Linked DNA regions of Homo sapiens: region 2 is linked to region 1. Evidence: fine-mapped QTL for protein levels in blood plasma. A gene starts in region 1. The other region holds a variant in brackets. All regions are shown on one strand. Distances are from middle to middle.

The links. PIP is the posterior inclusion probability: the model's chance that the variant is causal. The UK Biobank Pharma Proteomics Project read protein levels with antibody pairs (Olink). The fine-mapping took linkage between variants from a reference panel, not from the people measured, so its PIPs are less certain.
Region 2: its variant is fine-mapped to the plasma level of the SUSD1 protein (UK Biobank, PIP above 0.99). The variant lies in the coding sequence of SUSD1. If it changes the protein, the assay may bind it differently, which can mimic a change of level.

What each region holds. Positions count from the first base shown.
Region 1 is chr9:112,170,711-112,186,901 of GRCh38, forward strand. It overlaps SUSD1 (sushi domain containing 1), which reads right to left and starts at 4,587. Exons shown (of 17, transcript NM_022486.5): 1 at 4,423-4,587. The coding sequence starts at 4,525. It also overlaps the pseudogene RPL29P20. RefSeq lists a silencer at 4,046-4,705 and an enhancer at 10,339-10,488.
Region 2 is chr9:112,116,117-112,132,307 of GRCh38, forward strand. SUSD1 (sushi domain containing 1) reads right to left here. Exons shown (of 17, transcript NM_022486.5): 6 at 8,141-8,320. Among named protein-coding and RNA genes, the nearest start is that of SUSD1, 51 kb to the right of the region's middle. RefSeq lists an enhancer at 4,378-4,949. The variant C/T (reference allele first, on the strand shown) is at 8,173.

The DNA of each region.
Region 1 (16,191 bases):
AGAGAGAGAGAGAGAGAGAGAGAGAGCCTTGCTCTGTCACCTAGGCTGGAGTGCAGTGGCATGATCTCGGCTCACTGCAACCTCTGCCTCCCAGGTTCAAGCGGCTCTCCTGCCTCAGCCTCTGGAGTAGCTAGGATTACAAGCGCCCACCACCAGGCCCGGCCAATTTTTTTTGTATTTTTAGTAGAGATGGGGTTTCACCATGTTGGCCAAGCTGGTCTCGAACTCCTGACCCCAAGTGATCCACCCACCTCGGCTTCCCAAAATGTTGGGATTATAGGCGTGAGCCACCGCACCCAGCCCATATATTAAAATAGAAGTCTAACCCACAATCTGCAGCAATCATTCCAGGAACTCTGTAGCAATCAGCCCCAAATGGTCAGGCTTTAATCAGTAACGGCCAGCTACGCTAATTTTTGCCCCCAATTCCAACTTGGGACTAACCAGAAAAGCCAGATATGGCCCTCTCACCAATCACATGGGATGCATGCTGCTAGAAAACTTCTCCAGCTGGGCGTACCTGAACCACCACCACCCCCAACCCCCTTCCTTTTTCTACTGTAAAACTTTTCCACCCCCAGCCTATCTTTGAGTCTCTGCCAAATGGAAGTGATGATGGCTGACTCCCTTGTCACAGCAAGTTCTGAATAAATAGCCTTTGCTTATTCTTGTTTGGATGGTATTCATTTATTTGCCTACCAGATTCCTAATACAAGCCACTGTCCCTACCCACAAGGAGCTCTTAGTTTAGTAAACAATCACACTGCAATATGGTATAAGTGTACAACCAAGGCACGGAATATGGTATTACTGGTGCTGTAAAGAGAAGCGGATAGTGGCAACGGACTTCCTAGGAGGAGTGAGGACACCCAGGCTTGCTTTGAAATATGAATAGCACTCATTAAGTAGCCCGCCATGGGAGAAGGGAAACACAGTCCTCTAATCTTCTTCCTCGCCCCCCACTTTAAGAAACTAACCTCCCCCACTTATAGCCCAAGTTTAATTTTTGACCTGCTCTGTCCATTAACTATCTCATTTATTTTTGCTTTTTCATTTTTCCCCTCTCTACTAAATAATACCCCTCAGTCTAAAATATGTTTGAGTCTGTTTTGCATTCTCTAAACATCTTGGACTGACTTGACCAGCCCAGCTGAATGCTACCTTCGTTTTCCTTCTAATTTCTTTAAAGAGTATCTACTCCGAGGCCAGGAGCAGTGGCTTATGCCTGTAATCCCAGCAATTTGGGAGGCTGAGGCGGGCAGATCACTTGAGGTCAGGAGTTCGAGACCAGCCTGGCCAACATGGTGAAACCCCATCTCTACTAAAAATACAAAAATTTGCTAGGTGTGGTGGTGCATATCTGTAATCCCAGCTACTCGGAAAGCTGAGGTAGGAGGATTTCTTGAACCCAGGAGGCAGAGGTTGCAGCAAGCGAGATCATGTCACCGCACTCCATCCAGCCTGGGCGACAGAGTGAGACTGTCTCAAAAAAAAAAAAAAAGAGTATCTACTCCGTAAACAAGGTCTCTGCCCTCAACCTAGAGCCCTCACATCTAGCTCTCACCCTCTCTCCTCTACTAGCTCTGGGTCTCCACTGACCAGATCCATCCAATTCAAAGGCTTTTTCTCAATCTCTGCCTCTCGGCTTCCCATCTCCTAGTTTCCTTGACTAAATGAGCCTAGTCTTTCTCCATCCTACCCAGATGCTGCTTCTTCCTTCTCGACTTGCATCTACCATCTAAACTCCAAGAATCCTCTCCAAGGATCTGTCTTTCATCCTCCCAATCTTGTCAACTTCAAGGTTTCAAGCAACCATCAAGTCTATTGATTTCATCTCTCCAAATCCATAACAGCACCTCAAATTCAGGATGTCCAAAACAACTAATCATCTTTCTTTCCAAATCTTTCTCCTTCCGTAGAAACATATACCAAGTCACCCAGCCCCCAAGCCTTAGTGTCATCTTTCCCCTTCTGTTCCCTTGCACCTTCATATCTGTTATTAAATCCTTCCTTCCAGTCCATTTCCACCTTACTGTCTACATTCAGTCCGTTTCTGCTGTCATTACTGTGGGCCCAGTCCTCAGAACTTCCAGGCCAGCTATTGCAACAACTTCCTCAATGGGCTTGTCCAAGCCTCCAGTCTTTCCCTACATTGTCGACTGTCAGGAAACCTGCCCTTCATAAAACCAGGTTCTCCAAGGTTGAACATGAAGGGAGAATGTCTAGATAAGGAGAGGGGGCTCAACCAGGAAGCCTTGACTTCTGTTTCCCCAAATTCACCCCCAAAACCTTTAGTTACAGATGACCTTACGTAGCTACTAGCTGTGTTCAGCCATCTTAGTCTAACAATTCAATGGGATCATACTGGACAGTTTCCTACCTTAGAGATATCACAGGAAGATCCTGAAATAGACGCCAAGCATCTGCAAGTCCTATGCGCACTGTTCTCGGAGATAGAGCCAAGGAAGGAATCTTAACCAGGGCACCTAATATTACAAAAATGGCCACTCCAGAAGATCAAGCCATTGAAATACCCATCAGGCATGGTAAAAGTCCCAAGCCAAAGAGAATGGGGGTGGGGGCGGCAGGCAGGATTCTCAACCACAAGTCTCCTTGTATGTCATCACATGGAAATTTCCTTCCACTTCAGGATCAGCGTTTGGTTTTAGTAAGGAAGATGGGGGTTCCTTAGACCCTCTTTCCCCCGCCTCAAGTTTACTTATACAAATAGCAAAGGAGGACATCAGCCCCATGCAGATGGCAGTCCAAGGGGGACAATCCTTCTGTCCTCACGTTGGCAGACACAGATCTCTACTCTGAAGGCTTTGTAGGGGCCTGAGCTCCTTCGGGAGTCTGAGCTGGAACTGAAGCTGGAGCTGCAGCCTGAGCCTTGGTTTGATCCTTGACCTTGGTCTTTGGCTGGCACAGCCTGAGCCCCTTGGCAATGCGGGCACGAGCACGTTTCCCAAGCTTGAGGTGGGCAACGTAGGCAAGAGCTGACACCCTTTGGAATCTTGGGCTTAACCTCCTTGGGGTTTATGAGGGCAAGGCCTCAGCACGTGCACTCATGGCCTTGGCACTGTCGCCCTGCATCTTCTTTAGGCCCCTCTTATTGTGCTTCTTGGCAAACCGCATGTTTGTCAGGAACTTGGGGTCCACCCCTTTAAAAGATTCGTATCTTTGTGATCCGGGTTTCATGATGCCGTTTCTGTGCCATTTTCGGGACTGGTTGTGTGTGGTGTGGTGCTTGGATTTGGCCATGTCTGCACTGTAACCTGTGGCTCCCGAAGCGCCTAGAACTGGCTAGACCCACTTTTCTTGTCACTCCCTGAGACGGCTTCCAGTGGCTTCCAGGCACAGCTAAGTCCAAAGGCCTAGGTCTGCCAATCAAGGCACTCTGCCCTCTGCCTCTGGTGCCTCCGTGTGCTTCCTTCCCTTCTCCCCCGGGCCTGAATTCTGAAGGAATTCATTCATTCTACACTCATTTGTGGAGAGGTGACAGTGCCTTCTGCTATGAGCTGGGATACCTTTTTCACATTTTCCCATATCCAAATATGACCAATCATTGATGGCCCAGCTCAAGGGTCACCACCGATTCCCCTTTCCCTGCCCTCACCACCCACACCTTCTCATGGCACCCATGCCATTCTGCCTTGTATTACAGTTATGTGGATGAATGTCACCTCCCCTGCGTGTCTGAATCCTCTGTGTAATTCCTACTCAGCTCAACACTGCATTTTGCAGAGGAGGAAAAACAACTCCCTCGATTGCTTGGAAATAGAACATTTGCTGGTCTAAATCCTCCAGACAATGAGCTCCACGAGGGCCCGCACTGCCCGCCCTCATCGCGCACAGGGAAGCTGTTCAAGGGCCATCTGTTGAATGAATGAGTGAATTAATGGCTTCACTCCTGTACTCTTCCTTACGCGTCTTTCTCACCATATTTAGCATCCGGCTCTCTAACAACGTGAAAAAATTAAAAGTGGTAAGAAAATTGCTTCGGGTCAAAAATGTGTCATGCAAAAGCCACCGCAGAGCCGGAAGCGTGACAGCGCCGCAGAACGCCCTGGCCTCCCCGCCCTTCCCCGGGCGCCGCCCTGCCCGGGTCCGCGCTCGCGCCCAGCCCCCACCCCGCCTCCTGGGCAGTGGAGGTCCCTGGGGGCCCGGCCAGGCCGCCTTAAAACCGGCGTCCCCCGGCGTCGCGGGGTCGGGCGGGGGCAGGGAAGCCCGGCGGGGAGCCCCCCGCTTCTCTGAGCTCCTCCTTGCCGATCTCCAACGGCCGGCGCGGGCCCCACCTGCGCCCCACGCCTCGGCACCGCGCCGGCCCGGCCCAGGGGCGGGGAAGCGTCCGTGCGCCCAGAGTCCTCGAGGCCCAGCCGGGGGCCCCGCCGGCCGCCCGTGCCCGTCCCAGCCCGCACTCACCGTCGGGGCCCGGCGCTCCCGCGGCGCCGCGGGCCAGGCCGAGCAGCAGCAACAGCGGCAGCAGGCGGCGAGACGGGCCCGCATCCCAGGGCCCCCGGCCCATGCCGCCGCCGGTCCCTCCCGGCGCGCCCGCGCCTCCTCCCGGGGCCCTCAGGGTGCAGAGATAAGGCTACAGGCGCCGCGGGGAGGGGACCAGCCGGCGGCTTCCGGCGCCGCCGAGGGAAGCGGGGGGCGCTGCGGGGTCCCCGGGAGGCCGCAGAGCGCGGGTCCTTCCTCTTGTCGGGGCCTGGGCTTAGGACACGCCCGTTCCGCGTCCGTCTCTGGCTCCGCACTTGCTGCCCTCTCGCCGCTCACATTCGCAAAGGGGGACAGACACTCATCGGATAATGACACAGCTGGACGCAGAGCCCCGGAGAGTGCTGGGGAGGAAATGTTGCGGAGGATTCAAGCCACTCGAGGGCTCAGGGAGGCACCCCCGGGGAGAGGGGTGAGGGGAGCAAGGGGCGGAAATCTTCCAGGACGTGAAAGGGAGCTGGATGAGGTGACCACAGCGCAAGGCCCAGATGAGAGGTCGGAAGACGCAGACCCAGGCCACCCAGGGGCGACACACTTGACCAGGTGACACCTGGTCACCGGGAGTGAGAGAGAGTAGGGCTGTGATGGAGGGAGGGGCTGGCATCAGTCCCCGCTGCTCTGAGGACACCCGGCTTGGGACGCGCTGATGCCAGCCCCTACCTCCATCACAGCCGTACTCATCCCAAGGGAAGGAGTAAACCAAGACCCAAGGATGAGAAGGACGTTGGGGAGGAATCTAAGCGGGAGTTTGTTGTAGAAATGGGGAATGGGGACCTAGAGTGAGAGCAGAGGGTTGGAGAGGGGCGTTGAGCTGCAGAGGGAAGTTAGCCCTCCTAACCCAAGTGATGGAGGTCGCCGGGAAGCTGTCACAGTTTCAAGCAGTGAATGACTTCATCACTGACACATCTCTGTCTGTTCTGTGGAATTGGGATTGGGGTTGGGTTGGGATGTGGAAGGCAAAGAGTCCAGCCCGGAGTTGCTGCAGGAATCAGGCAATAGAAGACATGTCCTGGCCCGGTGCGGTGGCTCACGCCTGTAATCCCAACACTTTGGGAGGTCGAGGCGGGTGGATCACTTGAGGTCAGGAGCTCGATACCAGCCTGGCCAACTTGGTGAAACCCCGTCTCTACTGAAAAAAAAAAAATTAGGTGGGCACGGTGGCAGGCACCTGTAATCCCAGCTACTCGGAAAGCTGAGGCGAGAGAATTGCTTGAACCCAGGAGGCGGAGGTTGAAGTGAGCCGAGCTCGCACCACTGCACTCCGGACTGGGCGACAGAGTGAGACTCCATAGACAGATAGATAGATAGATAGATAGATAGATAGATAGATAGATAGATAGATAGATAGACAGACAGACAGACAGACAGACAGATAGAGATAGAGATAGATGTGTCCTGCAGCTGGGCATTGACAAATGAGTGTGAAGAGGGCAGTGTGTAAGAGTGGAATCCACTAGGTTTTATGACTAGTCGGGGAGAAGGAAATAAATAAGATCCGGTTTGAAGGCTTTGAGCTTGTGATGTCTGTGGGAGCGCAGCCGAGAGCAGGCACCCCACTACTTCACCCCATATCCTCACTTGTTTACTCTCTGCCATGAGCCTGCCGTAAATCTCACCACTTTCAAACACACCCATATAAGGGCTAAAGTTGTGGAGTCTTAACAAGTAGTTAAAAATCAACTTCAAGCTGGGTGAAGTGTGGCATGCCTGTAGTCCCAGCTACTAAAGAGGCTGAAGGGCAGGAGAATTGCTTGAGTCCAGGAATTCAAGGCCCATGTGGGCAATACAGTGAGACCCCCTCTCTTAAAAAAACAAACAAACAAAAACAAACAAAGAAAAAGCTCATCTTCCTAGGCTCTTTTTTCCTCTTGGGGAGACAAGGTCTTGTTCTGTTGCCCAAGCTGGAGTGCACAGCTCACCACAGCCTCAACCTCTTGGGCTCAGGTAGTCCACTAGCCTCAACCTCCCAGTAGCTGGGACTACAGGGGCGCAGCATCATGCCTGGCTCATTTAAAAAATTTTTTTTGTAGAGACAAGATCTGGCTATGTTGCCCAGGCTGGTCTCCAACTCCTTGGCTCAAGCAATCCTCCCACCTTGGTCTCCCAAAGTGCTGGGATTACAGGAGTGAGCCACTGCATCTGGCCTCACAAGCTCTTTTCTTAGCAGGCTTTCTTGAAAATTATTTTTGATCAACAAAGACAGGCACCTGTTTGGGGAGCAATAGATGGACGGTGTGTCTCTATTATTTAGACAAATTTTTTAAGTTCAGCTCTCCATAAACTTCAAACTTGGAAATCATGTCATTGTTTCAACAAATATACCATTCACTTAAGATTTTTAACCAGCCTATACCACTTCATCCCCACTGTGGCCCCTTGCAAAATAAATAAACTTAAGTATATATGTATATACATTTTTTATTGATAATGTCAGGAAAATTTGTCCAAAACTTGGAAATGGGCAAAAGAGATTACTGGGTATCCTTTCAGTGGGGTGCTGGGTGCACCGTCGCTGGACTTCCTATTGACTAGGCTATTTTGCAGCACTAGAGGGCTAGAAGTTAACTTGCCGAAAACTGATGATAATGTAAAAGATTTATGTCCATAGCAGTGAAAATGAATGTTTTCCAAGAGAAATATAAGTGATCAGTCCTTTCTGCCAGAAAATAAATAAGTTAAACCCACTAATTTCATTTTGTCCTATATGATACTAACTAGTTAACCAGTTTGGCACCTATTAGCAAATTCATGTGATCATTCCTGATGTTGGATTTTCCTTTGAACCTTAACATCTTGCTAGTTCTCCTTTGAGATCAACAACTTACTGAGTCCTCCATTAATCAATTGAATAGAATCTTAGATATGTTTTCATCTTATAGTTGCATAAGTCATGTTTTCAACTTTTTGAAAATTATATTTCAGGACAATCCATCTTACTCTATATTCCACATTAGATTGCTTGACTTTCATCAATTCTTTTCATTGGCTCATTTTTAAATTTCAAATACATATTTTTGGTTAAAACAATACTTCTTACTCAATGGTGAGTTCATTGGATCACATAATGAAAAATTATCTCCTCATCCAACAGTATTTGTCACAAGAATTAAAACAGAATCTTGAACCAGTGTTAAGTTTGGAGGAACAGTGGGATTATTGCTGACAAAGTATTTGACTTAAGAAAAATGTTCTTTCAAGAGAGCATGGTTAATATACCAGCATTTTCTAAAAAAGAACTTGAAAGAAGCTTTCTTCTCCTTCTCCCTCTCCTCCATTTCCTCCTCATTCTTCTTCTTCTTTCTTTGAGACAGGAGGATCTCACTGTGTCACCCAGGGTGGAGTTCAGTGGTGCAATCATGGCTCACTGCAGCCTTGACCTCCCAAGCTCAAGCGATCCCTCCACCTCAACCTCCCAAGTAGCTGGGACTACAAGCACATGCCACCATGTCCAGCTAATTTTTTAAAAAAAATGTAGAGACAGGGTCTTGCTGTGTTGCCCAGGCTAGTCTTGAACTATTGGCCTCAAGGGATCCTCCCGCTTCAGCCTCCCAAAGTTCTGGGATTGCAGTTGTGAGCCACTATGCCTGGCTGAGACTTAGTGTTTAGTGGGTATCGACTTTCAGTTTTGCAAGATGAAAAAAGTTCTGTGGATGGATAGTGGTGGTGATTGCACAACAATGTGAATGGACCTAACACTGAACTGTACACTTAAAAATGTTTGTTTGTTTGTTTGTTTTTGAGACAGAGTCTCACTCTTGTTGCCCAAGCTGGAGTCCAATGGCATTATCTCGGCTCACTGCAACCTCTGCCTCCCGAGTTCAAGCGATTCTCCTGCCTCAGCCTCCCAAGTAGCTGGGATTCCAGGCACATGCCACCACGCCTAGCTAATTTTGTACTTTTAGTAGAGACGGGGATTCACCATGTTGGTCAGGCTGTTCTCAAACTCCTGACCTCAAATGATCCACCCACCTCGGCCTCCCAAAGTCCTGGGATTATAGGCATAAGCCACCACACCCAGCCTTAAAAATGTTTAAAATTGGCTGGACGCAGTGGCTCACACCTGTAATCCCAGCACTTTGGGAGGCCGAGGCAGGTGGATCACGGCGTCAGGAGATCGAGACCATCCTGGCTAACACGGTGAAACCCCGTCTCTACTAAAAATATAAAAAAGTAGCTAGGCGTGGTGGCAGGCGCCTGTAGTCCCAGCTACTCTGGGGCTGAGGCAGGAGAATGGCGAGAACCCGGGAGGCAGAGGTTGCAGTGAGCCGAGATCGCGCCACTGCACTCCAGCCTGGGTGACAGAGCAAGACTCCATCTCAAAAAAAAAAAAAAAAAAAAGTTTAAAATCGTTTTTAAAAATTCAATGACAAAAAACGTTTATGCCCATTTTTATTTTTATTTTATCAAATAGGCAAATATTAAGGACTTTCCAAATTAGTTTTGGTTCTGGCAAATCTATATGGGATCAGGTTTACAAGAAAGATATCTTGGAAAGCCCCATTTTTCCCAATATTCCTGAGACATAAGTGAATGGGATTTCGGGAGAGCTCTGAGAGGACTCTGGAGAGCCATGGGTATGGGAAGGCAGAGGGCAGGCAAAAAATTTCATTCTGAACACTGGTTCAGTATCTCTAGGGAGATTTTCCCCCAAGCTGCTCTTCTCAGTGTCGGATTCCAGTGTGAAGAGGTTTGGGGTTTGTCCAGTGGGTTCCCATCTGGCTACAAGGCCAGAAGGAGAATCGAGGAGGGAGATTGGATACTAAATATCCTGGGACTCTCCTGGAAAAAAATCCATTCTTGCTTACCACACTCCTGACCATAAATGATTACAGAGACTGCTTTGGGACAGCTCCTGGCAGGCTTGCAAATTGTTATTTTTGTTTTTAATTTAATTTATTTATTTAGAGACAGAGTCTTGCTCTGTCGCCCAGGCTGGAATGCAGTGGCGTGATCACAGCTCACTGCAACTTTCAACTTCTGGGCAAAAGCAATCCTCCCTCCCCAGCCTCCCATAAATTGTAAATAAATTGTTTATATGTGGGTTTTTTAGGAATGGCTTGAATATCTAATTGTAATGAGTTTAATATACTCTGGGGTTGCACTTACTGCCTGAAGTTTGCATTAACAGAAATAATTTAAATATTTGAAGCCTTTGAAGTATATTGGCTGAAAACTTGTGTGTTTGAAACAAAGTAACAGTCCCTCTGTAACAGTCTGCTCCACCCCCACCTCATCTAACCCTGGCTGACTCGACATCTGTGAAAACCCCAAGGCCACCTTCAAAGAAGCCACATTACCCCTCCCAGAATGGAGTCATCATCTCAAGCAGATTTGTAAAGGCTGATAAGAAGGACCTGTCCCTCTGGAGAAATGCCCTTCTGATGAAGTCTCTAACTCAAACAAAGGCCAACTTCTCATTTTTTGAAGCTTAATGACTCTCAGATACTTTGCTGCTATTGGAGAAACAGTAGGATTACTCTGCCTTCTCCAGCATACCTCTCCCTCCCTTTAGACACACACATACATCAAACACCCTACCTGGAGTTAGTGTGTAGACCTTGGGCAACAAGTGCACTATTGTCTGCTGCACGTGGCTGTGCTACAACCAGTGTGTAATTTACCCAAAACGCTAGTATTCTCAGAAAAGCAAAACAAGCATGGGTGGAAAGGGACAGCTCAGCTTAGGGGACAAGTCCTGGACTCCCTATTTTTACAATAGTGCTCTCTCTCCTCACTGTAATGGACTCAAGAGACCCTGTGATCCCCCCAGCAGAAGCTGGGGCAGCAGCAAGATTTAGATTTGGACTTGGATTTGGGAGCAAACTTCAGACACTGCAACAGACAAGTTCAAGGAGCAGCAGGCTTAGTATTCACCTATCCTCCCCCGACCTCAGGTGGTGGAGACAACACCAAGTGAGACAGGCTGTGTCACCCAGTCTCTGTCTCTGTCACACACACACACACACACACACACACACACACACACAGCATCACCTTCCTCACTTGCAAAAGCCTCAGCTGTTGGTGTTTTTATTCCACAAACCCTGAAAGGAAGCCTGCTGACAGCCCATTTCCGGACCCAGGATCAGCCACCCACAGCCCTAAGGAGAAGCAGGCCAGGCAGTGGGGACCAAATCAGCAATGAGCAGCACAGTCGCTGAGGAAGCCACAACAGCTGTGAAGGCGGATGGTTCCAGACCTTCACTGATAGAGAGACCAGCTCACAGTGAAGACCCGTATCATCGACCTGGGCAAATAGTGCAATCTTCAAAACAAAAATACTTTACTCAATTATTTTGCAATGGACTTAGCTACAAGCTCTATTGGTTTCTTTGCTCGCCACTGTTTTTCATGTCCTATGTCTTCCTCTTTTCCCACTTCTCCTCCTCCTTCACCTTCTTTGGGGACGTCTTTGAGTATCTGTTTCAGAAAGTATTCCTGGGTGGTAAACTTCGAATCTTTGCAAGTCCAAATACATATTGATTTTGCCCTCATAATTTTTTTTTTTTTTTTTTGGAGACAGGGTCTTGTTCTGTCGCTCAAGCTGGAGTGCAGTGGCCCAATCTTGGCTCACTGCAACCCCCGTCTCCTGGGTTCAAGCGATTCTTGTGCCTCAGCCTCCCAAGTAGCTGGGATTACAGGCATGCGCCATCACATCCAGCTGATTTTTGTATTTTTAATAGAGCCAGGATTTCGCTATGTTGCCCAGGCTGGTCTCAAACTCCTGGCCTCAAGTGATCTGCCTGCCTCGGCCTCCCAAAGTGCTGGGATTACAGGCATGAGCCACCGCACCGAACCCCATAATTTAATTATACATTAACAGAATATAGAATTCTGGATTCAAAATAATTAAGTGATAGGTTAATGTGGTCTAGAATTCCAGATTCAGATGGAGTGCTGCAGATGGAGGGTCCCATGCTACTGTGGTTATCAACCCCTTATAGGTGACATGTCATTCTCCTATCATATCTACCAAGCTTTGGGGGATTTTCTCTTTATCCTGGGAATTCAGAAATTTCATGAGGATATAATGTTTCATTATTCTTGCCTAGCACTCAATGGACCCTTTCAATTTGTAGAATTAAGGCTTTCTACAGGAAAGACATTTTTTCTATTAATTATTTGATTCTTTCATTCCCTCAATTATTTCTATTTATCCCTTCTGGAATGCATGGGAATTTTTTTTTAATAGAGTCTCACTTTGTTGCCCAGGCTGCCTTCAACCTCCTAACTTCAAGCTATCCTCTCTCCTTGGCCTTCCAAATGCTGGGATTACACATGTGAGCCACCATGCCTGGCTGGGAATTTTTTAACACTTGCCTCTAGCCTCCATGGCTGTTAGTATTTTTCTTTGACTCTTTACTTTCTTTGCCTTCATTTACTGAATGTGGGAGATTGCCATAACTCAATTTAGTGAACTTTGTGTTCATGAATTTGATCCTTATCCATGCCGTTCTGCTCTTCATTTCATCTGCTGAAATATTTTTATATCAGCAATCATGCTTTTAATTTCTAAGAACTCTGCTTCTTTGTATAGAATGGCTTTTTTTTTTCTGTAGTTGTAATGACTTCTGTTTTATCAGGAAGTTGTTCATTTACTTGTTGAGTTTGATGACTCTTCTTCTGCTGGTTTTCCTCAAGTGTTTCATGATTTTTGACTGTCCTTATTTCTACATGAGGGTCTCCTCTGTTATGAATTAACAGTTTATGAGAATGAATCAGATGGTGATATGGTTTAGCTCTGTGTCCCCATCCAAATCTCATCTGCAATTGTAATCCCCACGTGTCCATGTCCAGGAAGGGAAGTGATTGGATTATGGGAGCAGTTTCCCCTATGTTATTCTCATGATAATGAGTGAGTTCTCCTGAGATCTGATGGTTTTATGAGGGTCTCTTCCCTCTTCACTTTCTCTTCTCTTGCCTGCCACCATGTAAGATGTGCCTGCTTCCCCTTCCGCCATGATTGTAGGTTTCCTGAGGTTTCCCCAGACATGTAAAACTGTGAGTCAATTAAACCTCTTTCCTATATAAATTACCCAGTCTAGGTATTTCTTTATGGCAGTATGAAAATGGGGCCAGGCGTGGTGGCTCATGCCTGTAATGCCAGCACTTTGGGAGGCTGAGGCAGGCGGATCACCAGCTCAGGAGTTCAAGACCAGCATGGCCAATGTGGTGAAACCCAGTCTCTACTAAAAATACAAAAATTAGCCGGGCATGGTGGCGCCCACCTGTAATCCCAGCTACTCAGGAGGCTGAGGCAGGAGAATTGCTTAAACCTCAGAAGTGGAGGTTGCAGTGAGCCAAGATTGAGCCACTGTACTCCAACCTGGGCAACAGAGCAAGAATCCATCTCAAAAAAAAAAAAGAAAAGAAAATGGACTAATACAGGTGAGTTAAAAAAAAAATGGAATCAATAATTTGGCTATATTTCTCCAGGTGAGAATCTCTGCTTTCTTAGGAGTAAATGGAGATTTGTTTACAGTGGTTCTAGCTCCAGTGGTTGTGCAAAGCAGGAGGTAGGAGTGGGGAGATAAAGAGAGTGCATTTGAGACCTCCTTCTTGGTTGCCATACTTTCTCTGGCCCCAGTGCCTTCTCTGGGAGCCTCTTTTGTATCACTATTCTCATCTTATTTGGTAAGCAATAAGCTTCATTTACAGTTATCACTTGGGCTGGTCATGGTAATCCCAGCATTTTGGGAGGCCAAGGTGGGCAGATCACTTGAGGTCAGGAGTTCAAGACCAGCCTGGCCAACATGGCAAAACCCCATCTCTACTAAAAATACAAAAAATTAGCCAGGCGTGGTGGCAGGCACCTGTAATCCCAGCTACTCAAGAGGCTGAGGCAAGAGAATCACTGAATCACTTGGATCCAGGAGGTGGAGGTTGCAGTGAGCAGAGATCGTGCCACTACACTCCAGCCTGGGCAATAAGAGCAAAACTCCATCTCAAAATAAATAAAATATAAATAAATAAATAAAGTTATCCCTTGGGGAAAAAATTCAGAACTAGCCACTTCTAAAACAGAAAATAGGTGAAGACGTTTGTAGCTCATGAATAAATTACCAGTTCACTATCCTACCGGTTCCTTTTCCCATCTCTGCTATCTCTGAACCTGAGATAATTCTGGAGTTCTAATGGGAAAATGTACTATTTTGGAGATGCTCTCTTTCTGCTTTCATGAGATTGTGGGTGCCTCAGCTCTGTTATGTTTTTATCAGTCTGATCACATCTGCTTTATGTTTTCAGCAAATCTCCTGTTTTGCTGCTCTCATAATACCATGCCTGGATTTCCAGTACTGCTTTCAAGTAATTCTGCTCCCACCCCCGGCCTCCATTAAAAAAAAAAATTGAGATGTAACTTTCATGCAGTGAAATATACAAATATTAAGTATATAGCTTATAAATTTGTACTTAAACACACACGAAATATCCACCACCCAAGCCAAGAAACAGAGCATTACAAGCTCCTTGGAAGCTCCCTCATATATTTTATCAGTCAGTCCTCCATAAGTAATCAATGTTCCAACCTGTATAATCACCATAGGTTAGTTTTGCCTGCTTTTGAATTTTATGCAAAGTAAATCACTATTTATTTTTTTGCTTGTGACTTTTTATACTCATCATTGTATCTGTAAGAGTTACATCCATGTCGTTATCAGTAGAAGTTTGTTTTCTTCATTTCTGTGTAATAGTCCAATGCAAACATGTATATGCAACAATTTACTTACCCATTCCATTGTGGATGGACATTTGGACAATTGTCCATTTTTAGCTCCAAATAAAACTGCTATGAAACTTCTTGTATTAATACATGTTTTGGGGGGTATGTACAGTGTTTATTCTGCTGGGTAAATATCCAGGATCACAGGATTTATAAATGGTCAGCTTTAGGCGTATTGCCAAACAAATTTCCAAAGCAGCTGCTGTTCACACTTCCATGACTGATGCAGAGAGTTCCAGCAGCTCCATGTCCTTGCCAACATTTGGTTTTGTCAGTCATTTTAATTTTAGCAACTTTGATGTGTGTATAGGGGCCTCTTATTGTGGTTTTATTTTCATTTCATTGTTGACCAAAAATATTAAACACATTTTCTTTTTTTCTTTTTTTTTTAGATGGAGTTTCGCTGTTATTGCCCAGGCTGGAGCGCAATGGCGTGATCTCGGCTCACTGCAACTCCAGCTCCTGGGTTCAAGCGATTCTCCTGCCTCAGCCTCCCAAGTAGATGGGATTACAGGCATGTGCCACCATGCCTGGCTAATTTTGTATTTTTAGTAGAGATGGGGTTTCTCCATGTTGGTCAGGTTGGTCTCGAACTCCCGACCTCAGGTGATCCGCCTGCCTTGGCCTCCCAAAGTGCTGGGATTACAGGCATGAGCCACCGTGCCCAGCCATTAAACACATTTGTTTATTGACCATTTTGAAATCCTCTTTTAAGACATGCTATCACATATTTTGTCCATTTTGTAAAATTGGGTTATCTTTTTCTCATTGATCTATTGGAGTTTGCTTATATTCTGGATTTAAGTCACTTGTCAGACATATGTATTCCAAATATCTTCTCCAAGCGTATGACTTGCCTTTTCACTCTCTTAATGATGTCATCTGATGAATAAACTTAACTTTAAAGAAGGTAATTTATCAATGTTTTCTTCTATGGTTAGTGCTTTTGTGTTCTGTTTAAGAAATTTTTGCCTATTTGGCGATCATGAAGTTATTCTGTTTTCTTCTAGAGTAAACTTGTAGAACTTCTTATTTTACTTTTCACACTTAGCTCTAAAATTCATCTGGAATTAATTTTTATGTATAGTGTGAAGTTCATTTTTCCCCATGTGGATATCCAATTGTTACAGCATCATTTATTGAAAATACCCCTCTCCCTGCCCCCCAAGAATTGCAGAGGAGCCTTCATTATGAATCAGGGGATTGGGTATGTGTGGAGTCTGCTGCTAAACTCTATTCAATTCCGTTGACCAATTTGTCTATCCTTGCTTTAATACCACTGTCTTAAGTACTGTTGCTTTATTGTAATTCATATCTGGTAGTGAAAATCTTCTGGTTTTATTTTTCTTCAATAGTATCTTGGTTACATTTTTAGCATTTTCCATTTTTACATTATATATATAAAATGTAGGCTGAGCCATGATAATCACTTGAACCTGGGAGGCGGAGGTTGCAGTGAGCTGGGATTGTGCCACTACACTCCAGCCTGGGCCACAGAGTGGGACTCCATCTCAAAAAAAAAAAAAAAAAAAAAAAAAAAAGATCTCCAGCATGGCACACAAGACCCTTTATAATCAGGTCTCTGCTCATGTCTCCATATACATTTCTACTTCCAAAGTCCCCTATATGTCACATTTAGCACTTACTACGTGTATTAAACTGTCACTTACTTGTCTGTCTTGTCAGTCTTTCCCATTAACTTATAAGTTTTGCAAGGACCTGGAGTGTACCACATTCACCAGCTATCATTGCATCTGGGCAAAATTCCTGGTACCTAGTAAGTGTTCTACATATTTGGGGAAGGAAGGAAAAATTGGAATTGATCACTGTCAGCTCTGGGTTGCCAGTGGGTATTAATATTCAGCTCACCTGTGCATCTTTGGAACAAGCTAGGGTAGAAAATCTTCAAATTAGTCATCCCTCTACATGTCTTATTTCCTGTTCATTCAAAGGCTTGATTCCTGGATCATATA
Region 2 (16,191 bases), 55 kb before region 1:
GAATTTCCTTTTTACTCTCAGTTCCTTTGTCATCGAAGCAGAGATTAGAAAGGAGTTTTCTTTCTTGTCCTTCCTTCTTGCTCATTCACTATGACAACTGTAAATGGCATCTCAAAGATGCCATCTGCCTCCAGCCTGTGCCATGCTCTCTGCACAGATGGGACCCAGATCCAATTATAGGGGTGTCAGATATTTCATCCCAGGGAGCAGTTTAACAAAGTTTGGTTGCTTTTCCCTCCAGGTGCCTACAAATTAGTTGGAAAGACTCCTTTATAAAAGAATCAGATATTCAACATCTACATTAATGCTGCCCTTTTAATGGAGACTATATGCCCTCATTCCAATAGTGCTGATAACTGAAAACATTTCTGGAAGTCCTCTTTGGAGCTGTCCCAGGGCTCTTTCATTCCCTGCTCACTACTAACTGAATGGCTATCAAATGCCAAGCATCCTGCCATGCCAGGCACTGGGCTGTGACGATGTTATCTGCTGACTATGTAGGGAAAAAGTACTCTTGAAAGTCATAGATCTGTGAATGTTAGTTGAAGGTATGGGTGCAGGTGAGATATGCAGGTAGGACAGAGACAGTGAATGGCCCAATGGCAGAACACTGGGAAACACTGAAACCCAGGGGGGAACCAGAGGAAAAAGGCAATGCAGAAGAGAGGCAGGAGGCTGGTAGAGTGACTGATGTCTAGGAAGGAAAGGAAGGACTTGAAAGAGTGTCTCTCAGCCTTCCAAGGCCAGGCACAGTGGCTGACACCTGTAATCTCAGCACTTTGAGAGGCCGAGGCAGACGGATTACTTGAGGCCAGGAGTTCAAGACCAGCCTGGCCAACATGGCAAAAACATGTCTCTACTAAAAATAGAGAAATTAGCCAGGTGTGGTGGTGCACACCTGTAATCCCAGCTACTCAAGAGGCCGAGGCACGAGAATCACTTGAACTTGGGAGGCGGAGGTTGCAGTGAGCTGAGATCGTGCCACTGCACTCCAGCCTGGGTGATACAACAAGACTCTGTCCCTAAAAAATAAAAATAAATTCTTTTAAGAAAATTATCAGCCTTCTTTCCCACCAGTCTCCCACAGCCTCCTCATCCCCTAGCCAAGAAGGGCCTGGAGCAGGTCAAGGCAGAGGGTGCAAACTCCATCTCCCTCTCTCCTCTCACATGGCTTTTCTCCCCTCATGGAGTGCCCACGGCATCAGGATTAGATCTGTGGTTTGACTTTGGGTAGAGGTGGGAAGAGCAGGCCCTCAGCCTGCCCAGTTGTAGAACACAGAGGCCTCTCTGGCTTAAAAGAAGGAGGCCCCCACAGTGTCCAGCTGAAGTCTCACTGGATTTGGGGAGAGAAAGTCTCAGTGAGTGATAAAGTAAGAGCCTTTGTTTTGCTTTACTCTATGTGTGTGTGTGTACACACAGGTACATATATATGTTATGTATATATAGATATAGATGTACATAATGTTATGTATTTTGGTATTTTGTTAGCATCTAGTATTTCTGTATGTGGTACTTAACACACTTGTAACTAAATACGTAAGTCATTATATAATGACCACCTCTCCTGAATGTAACTTTACGATGGCAAAGACCATGTTTCTCTCTCTATCCTCAGGCCCTAGCACAGTGCCTTAAATATAGATACTAAAAACTATGTATTATTTGGTTGAACTGGTTGAATGGATGGATAAAGGATCAACAATGCTAAATGTTGTGGAAAGGTTGAGAAGAATGACAGCTGAAACTGGAACATGAAATTGGCAGTTAGGTAGTCATCAGTCACCTTGGTGAGATGCTACAGTGAAGTGGGGGTGTTCGATGCCTGGTTTCCCCCCAGTAGGCTGAGAAGAGCATAGGAGGGGAGGGAATAAGACAGTGAGCCCAGACTACTCTTTCAGAAGTCCCACTGTGCAAGGACAGGGGCTGGTCTAGTGTACTCCCTTGGTTTCCAATTTTATATCCTTTTTCTTTATTTTTGGAAACAGCAAAAGGTCATAGAGAATAAATCCAGGTGACCCAAACAGATGGTCAAGCAAGCTCAGCATCATTTCTAGTCAAAACAGCATCTGATTTCAAAAGGAATGTAACTGATCTTCTAATACGGCTCATAAACTACCTCCAAAGGACATTATCAAATAGGATTCCAAGGCAAACACATGATGATAATGGCAGCACCACAGAAATCAGGGTATGGCTTCCCACAGTGCCTACTTGAATAAATGTATGTTTGGCTATAAAAGTTTTCATGTGTTTCCTTTCTTTCTTTGAAGTCTTAGATTCACATAAAATAAGTAGGAGTAGCATGGCTTAGAGTACGTTAGTGTAAAATATATTGCACACTTTGGGATGATTTTTGGTGGCACGCGAATACTTTTTTTCTTTTTTGGAGACGGAGTCTTGCGCTGTAGCCCAGGATGGAGTGCAGTGGCATGTTCTCAGCTGACTGCAACCTCCGCCTCCTGAGTTCAAGTGATCCTCCAGCCTCAGCCTCCCGAGTAGCTGGGACTACAGACGCGTGCCACCACACCCAGCTAATTTTTGTATCTTTAGTAGAGACGGGGTTTCACCATGTTGGCCAGGCTGGTCTCAAATTCCTGACCTCAGGTGATCCACCCTTCTCGGCCTCCCAAAGTGCTGGGATTACAGGCGTGAGCCACCGCGCCCAGCCAGGAATACATTTTTATCTGTTCGTTATGTATCAGTTTTTGTGTATATCAGAAAAATACACCTACTTCATCAAACTCATGAGATCACATATATTGTCCTTAATAAATTTGAATTATAAATTTAAGGTTAGGTTGTTTAAGGAAACACTCTAAGTAAATAATACTCTTATTATGGCAAACATTGTGTCAGGGTGGTATACAAATAATTCAAGCTTGGAAGACACTGATGTAGGAGAAAGAATGTGGTCTTTCTGGGCTTACAGGCCTCAGTTCAAATCCTGGCTCTACCATTTGCTAATTATTGAGTGACCATGTAAAAGTCACTTAACCTTTATGAGTCTCAGATTACTTATCTATGAAATGAAAATAACAAAGCTTACTTCAAAAGGGTTTTAAGAGGATGAAATGAAATCGAGCATTAAGGTCCCTAGCTGAGCCCTGGGTGTGTACGTTCATGCTCAGCCAGCAGTAGCTATAATGCTTGATGGTCCAAACCTCATTCACATATTCCAATACATCCGGCCATGTGGCTATTTATGTAAATGTATCCATTTATTCCGGCTGACCTTTCTGTTCCATCTGAAATGTGTGTGGCTGCAACTGAGCACCCAGTGGGCTGGAGAAGAGGGTCACCAGCCAAACAGAAGGGACAGAGGCCAACAGGAGTCCTGGAGGCATCAGAGCAGTGCCCAGAGCAGTTTAGAGGCACAGAAAGGATCCTAGCGATAAACAGCCTCTGTTCCAGCAGAGATGTTACCCTTCTGAGAGCGTGGAGTGAGTGAGCGTCAGCCTTATAATCATTAACTCAGATTCTAAACATGAAAAGCCAAATGGCCTGTGCAGAATGGAAGCCAGGGAAAGTCTTATCAAGAATGAATCAGTCTCTTTGATCTTGAGGTAAACCGACTCATTAACATCAAGCTTCCACCTGGGGTTTTTCCAGACACGAAAGTGATTGCCTAATTCCCAGCTGTCTGGAGTTTCCAGTCCAAACTGGCCTGGCGGGGAAGGAGGGGGCAGGAAAAAATAAGTCCCACCAGCTTGATAGAGCTCACACCCCATTAAAAGCACATACGATTTGTGCTACTAATCCCAAAGACTAGTGGCTTCCTTACAAACAACCCAGGTAAAGATAAATTATTCTACCCAGTTTGGAACTAAACAGGAAGATGAACAGTGAAAACAGGACAGAGGTAGGAGGCATTCAGAGAGAAGCAGAAAAGTAGAAAAAGATGAGAGGGGAAGCCAAACGTGAACACGAAGACAGGGAAATATAAAATACACAGAGGCAGGAGGATGGCTTGAGGCTAGCAGTTTGAGACCGGCCTGGGCAACATAGTGAGACACCCGTCTCTACAAAAAACATTTTTAAAATTTAGCCATGCGTGGTGGGTCATGTCTGTAGTCCCAGCTGCTTGGGAGGCTGAGGCAGAAGGATCGCTTGAGCCCAGGAGTTGGAGGCTGTGGTGAGCTGTGATCACTGCACTTCAACCTGGGTGACAGAGTGAGACTCCATCTCCAACAACAACAACAAAATACACAGAGACAGTTGGGATGAGGGGAGTGAAGAAATAGGTAACAAGTGAAAAACAGGGAAAAGAAAAAAGAAGAGGGGTAGCTGAGCAAGAGCCATGGTAATCAGCAGCTCTCACTACATTACCAGAAGCCTCTCCTACCTACCCACCCAGAGATCATCTGCACTGTACCATGAATTAATCAGCATGTAAATCATCCCCTTTATCTGCGGAAATTGAATTTAGCTGCCAATCCTGATTGAGGGCATAAAGGCCTCCTCACAGAAAGATCACAGCTCTCAGGGAGAATGCCTTTTCTTTTCTTAAATCAAAGCTTGCATAAACCCATGGAAACAGCTGCAGCTGGAGCCACAGACTTTGTGAAAGGTAGCAGGCTGAGGATGGTAATTATAATTAGCAGTTACATAACATGTTTGTTCTTCAAAGTGCTCTACAAGCATCAGCTAATTAATAGCTTACTATGCCCCATGCAGATCCACTGGTTTTTCATGCGGTGACTAATTCTTATACCCCCATTGACTGCTGAATGTTGGAGGCAGAGCAGCTTGAGCAATGAAGCAAATGGCTGAGGCTCACAAGCTATACCCAGCTCTTACCAAGTGACTCCAGCAGTTGTTCTGTGTCGGGAATACTTCCCCAAACATTGAATTCAGCATTCCAGGAGGCAGCTACCTCACCTCCTCCAAATAACTCTTGGAGATGCTTTTGCAAATGCCATGATAGGTTGGAGTGACCATCAGTCTAGTCCAGCGTGGCATTAGCTCCAATTATTAAGACTGGACCCCCCTAGAGTCTTTGGTGTCAGTTACACGTTTGCCCTTGCTCCTCTGTGCAGGCTGGGCAAGTCAATGAGACCTCTCTAAGAGAAGACTGCATTGTATCTCTGGGTTCTTATCCAGCTCTACCCTTCTTTGTTTTTCTGATTGCAGTCTCTGGCCTACATCCTCTTGAATTCGCGATGGAGATAACCAAATATAGGAATTGCATGGCACATACAGGGCCTCAACAGCAGAGGTGAGCTTTCCATCTATCCCAAGAATGCTTTACTCAAGGATTTCAGAGGTCCAGGAACACCTTGCTACTTGTAAAACATTATATGTGTATGTGTATGTGCATACCTTTGGGGAAAAGGTCTGTTTCCCCTGTTGCACTGTAAATTCCAAGAGGGTCATGCCGACAAAGTACCTGACAAATAGTGTATGCTAAATAGATATCTATTGAATGAATGGACAGATTTCCTCAAATTCCCATCCCCAACATCGTTATGAACCACTGCTCTATGGACAAATAATCCCCAGGGGCCTACATGTCTTGTTTGCTCTGGCCAGAATTTCCGATGGAAAATGTTGGTGGGCAAGACCACAATTCTGCTGCTAGTCAAACCAGAGACCCAGATCAAAGCTCCTGGAGATTTCACTCTTCAGAGACCTGTCTTCAGAGCCAAGCAAGTCAACAGCCAGAAATATATTCCCAGGGACTATGTGACAACCATTTGTCATACCTTCTGATCAACCACCACAAATGGTAAGAATCATTGCCTTTTCTCACCTTGTTCCTCAGAGGCAGAGGTGTGAAATGAATCATGTAGAAGTACACGCTTCTGATTCATGAGAAGATCTTCACATGAGGCTAACAACTTTAGGAAAAAGACTAACATGTGCATGGTGCTTTCAGCTTTCTAAAATGCGCCCCACAGATTATCTTATTCGATTCCTTTTCAACACTCTCTGAGGTAAGAAAAACAGACTTTATTTCCCTCTTTTATAGATGAGGAAACCGAGGCTCAGAATGCCTGGCCTAATGACACACAGCTAATATATGGCATTGCTAGAATATGAAGTGAAGTCTCAAAACTCCTTTTTTAATTGAGACAGAGTCTCGCTCTATCCCCCAGGCTGGAGTACAGGGATGTGATCTTGGCTTACGACTGTCTCCTGGGTTCAAGCAATTCTCCTGCATCAGCCACCTGAGTACTGGGGACTACAGGTGTGCACCGCCACACCTGGCAAATTTTTAATTTTTTGTAGAGATGGGGTCTCTCTATGTCACCCAGGCTGGTCTTGAACTCCTGGGCTCAAGCAATCCTCCTGCCTTGGCCTCTCAAAGTGCTGGGATTACAGGTGTGAGCCACTGCACCCGGCTAATTTTTGTATTTTTAGTAGACATGGGGTTTCATCATGTTGGCCAGGCTGGTCTTGAACTCCTGACCTCAAGTGATCCACTGCCTCAGCCTCCCAAAGTACAGAGATTACAGGTATGAGCCATTGCACCAGGCCTCAAGACTCCTTTTCACCAGCAATTCCACTTCTGGATATATATCCAAAAGAATTGAAAACAGGGTCTCAAAGAGAGATTTGTACACACATTTCATAGCAGCATTATTCATCATAGCCAAAAGATGGAACACACACCCAAGTGTCCATCAACAAATGAATGGATAAACAAAACATGGGATACTCATATAATGGACTATATGAAGAATGGAAATGTTGACACATGTTACAACATGGATGTATCTTAAAGACATTATGCTTAGTGAAATAAGCCAGTCTCAAATGAACAAGTACCATATGAGATACCTACAGTAGTGAAATTCACAAGAGACAGAAAGTAGAAGGGTGAGGTTCCAGGGGCTGTGGGGAGGGGCAAATGGGGAGTTGTTGTTTAATGGGTATAAAGTTTCAGTTTTGCAAGATGAAAAAGTTCTGGAGATTGGTTGTGCAACAAGATTGGTATACATAAACACTACTGAACTGCACACTTAAAAATAGTTAAGATGGTGTATTCATCAGTTTCATGTTGCTATAAAGGAATACCTGAGACTAGGTAATTTATAAAGAAAAGAGGTTTATCCAGCTCATGGTTCTGCAGGCTGTACAAGAAGCATGGCACCAGCATCTGCTTCAGGTGAGGGCCCTGGGAAGTTGACAATCGTGGCAGAAGGTGAAGAGGGAGCAGGCATGTCACACAGCAAGAGAGGGAGCCAGAAAGAGAGAAGGAGGTGCCAGGTTCCTTTTAACAATCAGCTCTCATGTGAACTAAGAGCAAGAACTCATCACCAAGGGGAGGACACAAAGCCATTCCTGAGTGATCTACCCCCATGACCCAAACACTTCCCACCAGGCCCCACCTCCAACACTGGAGACCACATTTCTCATGAGATATGGAGGAGACAAACATCCAAACTATATTAGATGGTAAGCCAGGCATGGTGGCTCACACCTGTAATCCCAGCACTTTAGGAGGCCTAGGCAGGCAGATCACTTGAGACCTGGAGTTCGAGACCAGCCTGGGCAACATGGTGAAACCCCATCTCTACTAAAAATGCAAAAATTAGCTGGGCATGGTGGTGGGCACCTGTATTCCCAGCTACTCGGGAGGCTGAGGCAGGCGAATCACTTGGTCACTGCAACCCAGGAGGTGGAGGTTGCAGTGAGCTGAGATCGTGCCAGTGCACTCCAGCCAGGGTGACAGAGCAAGACTCCATCTCAAAAAAAGAAATAAAACTATATTAGATGTTAAATTGTATGTTTTTTGTGTGTTAACACAATTAAGAAACATTAAAAAACTATTTTTCGTCATACCACCTTTTCTCTGAAAAGCGGTCAACAGGTGTTAAGTTAGGAGCATGCCCCTCTGAGAAAATGGTTCATGGAGAAAAATGTCTCAGACAGTCAAGCAGAGGGGACAGGAATCACAGCGATTTAAGGTGGGTCTCAAAAGATGGATGCATAACATTTTCTATCCAACTTATTTTTCCAATCCACCTTCTAAATCTTCAGGATTTAGCTGACAAATCTAAAGCCAGGTGCACAACCAGGTAAATAGCCGAGCTGGGTACAGTATGTAGAGTGAAGCAGCAATCAGATAGTTTTAGGCCCTCGGCTCCCACTGGCTGTTTTGTTCCTGGGTAGCAGGAGCCCAGAACAGAATCTGTACCTGTGCATGTTAAAGTACTTTCTCTCCAGGTG[C/T]CTTTCTCTGTGCAAACAGAAGTGATCTTTCCTCCAGGGCTCTCAAAGCCCTCTTGACAGACATAGCGAGCCACACCGCCCAGCCTGGAGCTGTGATTTCCTACCAAGATGGCGTGCCGCATTTCTGGAGGGTTGCCACAGTTGATCTCTGCAATGGGAACCAAGACAGCACTGGTTATAAGCCCTGACTTCCAGCCCTACAATTCATATCTTTAAAATAAATATTTAATAGTGATAGAGGCCACTCAAACAGGAAAAGAGAAAACACTAACCCCATCAAATAATCCAATATAAGTATGTCTGAATTTAATAAAATTTCCAAACATGCACACATAGAGAATAGTCAAACTATGCAATTATTTACTTATAAAGAATTCATTGATCTATGAAATAATATATCTTAGGGTCCTTCTAAATATTACAGTTCTCTAGTACATTTTACTATGTATCTTCAGATCATCAATCCCAGAGTAGATGATAACGCAATTGTAGCAATTATTGCCAACTGACTGTTAAATAGAAGATATTCAAAATCTCTGAACTTTTTAAAGCAAATTAATGGAGAAAGTATTTATCTCCTAAGGATTCAACTTATATGCATCTTTCAAAGAAAAAAATCAGTTGCATAGGAGGAGACAAACCCGGAATTACAAAATTGATACGAAATTTTTTTCTCTACAACTCTGACTACTAAAAGACAATTAAATATTTACAAAGAACTATCTACAGGTAAAAGATTATGACATAACCACTCTAGACCCAGCCAAACTATACTTCACTTAAGAGCCCAAGAAAGTCATTTTTAGATATTTCAGAATTTTAAAAAATCGATCCGTTTATCTTTTCTGGGAAAAAAAAATCGAAAAAATGAATCAGAACAAATATCGTAAGAATAAGTGTGCAGGGCAGACAGGTTTTACAGAAAACACCAAGGAACAATGAAATCAGCAAGATGTATGGATGTCTCCATAATCGTTTAAATGTGACTGTAGAGCTTGACATAACTATTAGTAAAGGATTCTAGAACTAAAAGTTGAACAATGTAAAATAATAATAAAAATAAATTTTCAAATTATTTCAATAAAACCAGAGCAGTGAGTTGAAGGGAAGAAGTAAAGCATACTAATGTTTCATGTCACACAATAGCACTCATGGATACAATGTTATTCAAGAAAGTATAATAACTATAAAATAAGATGGCTCTAATAATTTCAAGTGTCACCAATAGTCCCAGTTATACCTAAACGCAGAAAGAAAAAAAAAATCTGTTCTTCCATGGTCAGAGAAAAAAAAAGAAAGAAAAAAACTTGAGGCATTCATTCTGATTTGTGATTTTCTCCCCAATCCGTAGAAAGCCAAGAAAATTAAGCCCTCCTAACATCCAGGCTTTTTAAACAGAAGTCCTTTTATTGAGATAACAGCATTCAAACTAGAGAAAATCATATAACCTGTTTCCATATCCCCATCAGCCATCCTTGGCCTTAGAAATAGATGGCTTCTTTTAAATGAGCCTCTGATACAGAATGTGTGGATTTAATGCAACTGCACTCTTTTACATCCCATTATGGATGCTTGGGCTGTTGCAGGACTCCAGAGTTATTTCCAGGAGGGAGGTTTCCCAGAGCAGGATCTCATCTAATTTCCAACCCTGTCTATCTCTCATGTCCCATGTTTGCCCACAGAGCTTTGGTTCCCTTTTCATGCATATTCACCAGACACAAGACCCCTTGGCCCTCATCATGTTTTCCCAGCATCAAACCTTTAGACGTATTTAATGGCCCAAGGCATTCCAAGAATGAATATATTTGTGTGTACACAAGCAACCAACCAAAGAGATGGTTAATGTTTCATAAGACTGCCTAGTCACATTGTTGACATCTGAAACATCTTCTAATTTAAGACAGAGTTCAGTTACAGCAGGAAGTAGAGGGGACATCACTAAAGAGGTTGGAGGTATAGATTCATGTACACTGAAGGTGGAAGGTTAAAGTGCTCAGTGGAGAAGTCTGGGAGGGAACCCAGTGACAAGTCATTGGATTAGGAGAGAAGCACAAGTACAAAAGGGATAAAAGTACAAAAGATAACTAGATTGGCTTCCATCTTGGACGTGACCAAGAATAATGGAAGGCATGATGACTTTGGTTGGGACTGCAAGATTTTAAAAAAAAATTAATACCAAATATCACCCAATTGATAAGAAATCAGTAACTTGTTCTCTAGGGATTAAGGCTCAAAGGCTCAGGTGGATGCCCCTTTAGGAAGCAGCTTGGACCTGTGGCTCTGTGAGTTCCCCGTTAACAGAGCTATTCAAGTTGAACAATCCCTCAGCAAGAGACATTTAGAGAGGATTTCAGCACGGCTTGGATTAAACGCATGGTTCTAACAGCTATACGTCTGAATCCCCTGGGAAGCTTTAGAAAAACGCACGTGCTGGAGTCCCACACCCACCCAGAGATAACTCTTCTGATTCAGTAGTACTGAATTGGGCTCTTGGTATTCAAATTTCTACAAAGCTCCAAATTTCATTTTGGCGCACACCCTCAGCTGACAATCTGAATGAAATCCTGGTACAAATGGCTACCATTTGTCATCATATGCATTCCAACAGGATCCTAAGTATAAAGCATTAATAGTCAAAATACCCATCCATGTTAAGGGGTATTTTCCCCACTGTACAGGCAAAGACTGCTCAAAATGATAGAATGATACATCCAAAGTTACACAGGCAATTGTGGGATGGCCAGGAGTTTAAGGCATGTCAGTCATATTCTTTTCCCTACACCCACAGCTTCTCGAAAGTTGGCCGGGCACAGAGGCTCACACCTGTAATCCCAGCACTTTGGGAGGCCGAGGCAGGCAGATCACTTGAGACCAGGAGTTTGAGACCAGCCTGGCCAACATGGCAAAACCCCATCTCTACTAAAAATACAAAAATTACCCGGGCGTGGTGGCACATGCGCCTGTAATCCTACTACTCAGGAGACTGGGGCACAAGAATCACTTGAACCCATGAGGCAGAGGTTGCAGTGAGCTGAGATTGTGCTACTGCACTCCAGCCTGGCCAACAGAGTGAGACTCCATCTCAAAAAGAAAAAGAAAAATGCTGTTCCAACTCTGAAATTCTATAGTCCCCGTGCCTCCCATCTCAGCTTACTCTCCTCTGCTTTTGCACTCACACCTTCTTCTGCAGGTGCACTCTTTCACCCTCACACTGAGCAAAGTCCTTCCCCGTGCCTGATCTGCTCCATTACTAACAAAGGGATCCTGTCTTCCTCTGAACTTTTAAGATCTATGTTCATTCGTTTATTTATTCCTGTCTATTGAGTGCCTATTACATGCTAGTCATTATAGCAGTGAACAAAGTGGGTAAGATTTCTGCCCTCATGGAGCTTAGGGAGAGCCAATAGGCAAAAAATAACAATAATAATAAGTCAACACATAACTGTGATTGTGGCAAATGTTATATAGAAATAATAATAACAATTATTATTAAGTGATAGGATGGGGAAAACTTCCATTGTTGTTGTCGCTGTTGTTGTGATCTCACTCTATTGCCCAGGCTGGAGTGCAGTGGTGCCACCACAACTCACTGCAGCCTTGACCTCCTGGGCTCAAGAAATCCTTCCACCTCTGCCTCCCGAGGAGCTGGGACCACAGGCATGTACCACCATGCCCAGCTAATTTTTCAGTTTTTTGTAGAGACGGGGTCTCTCTGTATTGCCCAGGCTGGTCTCTTACTCTCGGACTCAAGCAATCTTACCGGCCTCAACTTCAAAAAAACTTTTTTTGTTTGTTTTTTGTTTATTTTTGTTTTTGTTTGTTTTGAGACAGTCTCACTCTGTTGCCCAGGCTGGAGTGCAGTGGCACGATCTCAGCTCATTGCAACCTCTGCCTCCCAGGTTCAAGTGATTCTCATGCCTCAGCCTCCCAAGTAGCTGGGACTACAGGCATGCACCACCACACCCAGCTAATTTTTTGTAGTTTTAGTAGAGATGGGGTTTTGCCATGTTGCCCAGGCTGATCTTGAACTCCTGAGCTCAAATGATCTGCCTGTCTCAGCCTCCCAAAGTGCTAGGATTATAGGCGTGAGCCACCATGCCCGGCCTACAATCTTTTTTTTTTTGAGATGAAGTCTCACTCTGTCACCCAGGCCGGAGTACAGTGGTGCAATCTCGGTTCACTGCAACCTCCGTCTCCTGGGTTCAAGCAATTCTCCTGCCTCAGCCTCCTGAGTAGCTGGGATTACAGGTGCCTGCAACCACGCCCAGCTAATTTAGTATTTTTAGTAGAGACAAGAGTTTCATCATGTTGGCCAGGTTAATCTTAAACTCCTGACCTCAAGTGATCCTCCCAGAAACACTTTTTAAATAGAGTAGTAGTTAGAATGATTTGATCTCTCTGAAGAAATGACACATACATTAAGACCTGAAGGATGGCAATGAGCAAGCCATGTTTGGGACCAAAGGAAGAATATTTCAATCAAACGAAAGAACCAATGCAAAGACCCTGAGATAAGAAAGCTCTTGGTGGGTTCCAAAAAGGGAAAAGCAACCTGCATGGCAGGAGCCTAGTTAGTGAGAGGGAGACTGGCATGAGATGAAGGTGGAGAAAAAAGCAGAGCCAAACCACACAGGGCCTTATAAATCTTGGGTTTTATTTTAAAAGCAACTGAAGCTCTTGTTGGGTTTTAAGTACGGGAATGAAAAATCTGATTTAGGTTTTTAAAAGACCACTTTGGCTGTTAGGTAGAGAAAGGTTGGGAGAAGAATAGGAATAAAAAAAGAGACATCAGCCAGGGTCTACAGCAGTAGTCCAACAGAGAGATGATAGGGTCTTGGATGGACTTCAGAGGGGATGGAAATGGAAGGAAGAGATGGATTTGTGATGTATTCTGGAAGCAGAACTGAATGTTCGTGGTGATAGTTTGGATGTGAGGGTGAGAAGGGGGGTGGAATAAAGACTATTACCTACACTTAGAGATATACGAAGTATAGAGTATTATCTGTTCTTTCTGTTGTTTCAGGGGATTTTGTTTTGTTTTGAGACAGGGCCTTACTCCTGTCGCCAAGGCTGGAGTGCAGTGGCACAATCACAGCTCACTGCAGCTTCAACCTCCTAGGCACAAGTGATCCTTCCAGCTCAACCTCCTAAGTAGCTGGGACCTCACACGTGCACAACCATATATGGCTAATTTTTGTATTTTTTGTAAATATGGGGTTTCACCATGTTGCCCAGGCTGGCCTCAAACTCCTGGGCTCATGAAATCTGCCCACTTCGCCCTCCCAAAGTGCTGGGATTACAGGCGTGAGCCATCACTCAGCCGAGTATTATCTATCCTTATACAAGCATTATCTATACTGTTCATATGACCTTTATTTCCTGCCTTGCAGATTTAGTGTCTTTTTATGAATACATGCCTTCCCGAATATATGGACAGTTCCTCAAGGACAGAGTCTTTGTCTTATAATTCTTGTACCTCCACAAGGTCCGCTTAAAATCGTATGTTTTACACCGTTGTTCATTGATAGCTTGCTACTACTTTATCACAGTTCAAGATGCAATAAATGCTGCTACGATATGCCAACAGCCCCTCAGGAAGAAACCAGACATCAGCAGATCATACGTCTAAATAACAGGACAGACATTACTTCCATATTTATTATCCAACACAGGTAATTCACACATACCAAACACCAAGTAGATGAGAGCTGAGAAAAAGCCCCACAAAAACCAGTATTAATCTTGTGCCAGGGAATTATAAGAAAGTTGTTCAGGCCTCAGTAATTTTAATAATAATAGCATTCAGCCAGGCATGGTGGCTCACGCCTGTAATCCCAACACTGGGAGACCAAGGCAGGAGGATTGCTTCAGCCCAGGAGTTCAAGACCAGCCTGGCAAACATGCTGAAACCCTGTCTCTACTAAAAATACAAAAATCAGTCAGGTGTGGTGGCGCATGCTTGTAATCCCAGCTACCTGGTAGGTTGAGGCAGGAGGATCGCTTGAACCTGGGAGGCAGAGGTTACAGTGAGCCAAGAATGCACCACTGCACTCCAGCTTGGGCAATAGAGCGAGACTCCATCTCAAAAATAAAAGAAGGGGAGGGGAAGGGAGGGAACGGGAGGGGAGGGGAAAGAGGAGAGAGGAGAGGGGAGAAGGAAAGGAGAGGGAGAGGAGAGGCAGAGGAGAGGGAAAGGAGAGGGAGAGGAGAAGGAAAGGAGAGGGAAGGAAAAGAAAGAAAAGAAAGGAAGGAAAGGAAGGAAAGAAAAGAAAGGAAAGAAAGGAAAGGAAAGGAGGAAGGAAGGAAAGGAAGGAAAGGAAAGGAAGGAAAGGAAAGGAAAGGAAAAGGAAGAAAGAGAGAGAGAATATAGCATTCATTGAAATACTCCCAAACACAAGGTAGTCTACCAGATATACACTACCTTATTTATTACAACAGAAAATCCTACAAAGTAGCCAGGCAAGGTGGCTTACGCCTGTAATCCCAGCACTTTGGAAAGCTGAGGAGGGCAGATCACTTTGAGCTCAGGAGTTCAAGAGCAGCCTGGGCAACATCTCTACAAAAAAAAAAAAAAAATACAATAACTAGCCAGGCATTGGTGGCTCATGCCTGTAGTCCCAGCTACTTGGGAGGCTGAGGTGGGAGAATCACTTGAGCCCAGGAGGTGGAAGCTGCAGTGAGCCAAGATCGCACTACTGCACTCCAACCTAAGTGACAGAGACCCTGTCCCAAAAACACAAAAACAAAAAACAAAAAAAGAAAATCCTTCAAGGTAGGTGGAAACTATATCTCATATAGTTTACAGATACAAAGATGGAGGCCCTAAGAGCTTAAGTCACATTCAAAGTCACACCATTCGTAAAAGAGCTGATATTCAAACTGTGGTTTGTATGACCTCAAAGTCCAGGTCCAGTAAATCTGGGCAGTTTCACCACGAAGGGCTCCACCTAGGCCCTGACTTGGTTCTCTAATCTTACAGGTTAGCTAAAACCTAAGGAGAAAACGTTGCCTGAATAAGCATTCAAGTCAGTCTGGAAGGGTTCGATGACAACGCCTCCTGCCCAATCTTGTCTCCAAGAGCTTTCCCAGAGCAAGAGAGCTGCTGGAAATAGATGTCTCTCTGTAGCTCTGTGACTCCCTGAAACCTTCTTGGGCCTGATGTTTAACCCTATGTATGACATTATAGTCTGGCCTGGGGCTTGCCTAGAACATGACCCTGTCACAGATATTCCCAGCTACTGCCACTTCTGCTCAGACCAAATGGCATCCAAGAAAATAGGTAGTTCCTACTAAGAAATACTCAAAAATCAATCCAACAGAGGCCACAGTGGGAAATAAAAATATAATCCTATTTAATACATAAAAAACCCCCAAAACTCTTACTATCACAAGGAAATAAACATTTAAAAGCAGTTCATACCCCCAAGGAAGAAAAAATAAGCAGTACAAATTTGCATTGCATATGCATAGGGGCATTCATTAAAGCACATGTTTCTCTGGCTAATTACGTTATTAAGTAACAACGTTTGCATCTGCATCAGAAATACAGTCAACTAATTATGAGCATGGCTGGGAATTTTCCCTTACTTTCCCATTGTCTGTGATTTTATTCAAATAATCAGCTTCAAAATAGGACTCCTGAGGGAGTGGAGGAGAATGTGTTGTGCTGGTTTCAAGGGCCAAATTTATAATATAACTTATATCTCATATCTTGAAGATAAAAATGTTTATCCACAGGGCTAGCTTTGATATTCTACCAAGGAAATATTCCAGAAGGAAATTTGTTTGATGAAAGGTACAGGCAACTTACGGCATCTAATCAACAACTGACTGTATCACAAATGTCACCCATATTGGCTGCTGTTTATTATACGCATCAGCACAATAACATAGATTGATGACAGAAAGAATCTAGTAATATAAAGGCTCCATCTAAGACTGTTTAGAGATCAATAAATAACAAGCTGAGAAAGAAAAAAGTGACCAACAATGCCAATAAATTGAGGCAGACATTTTGCC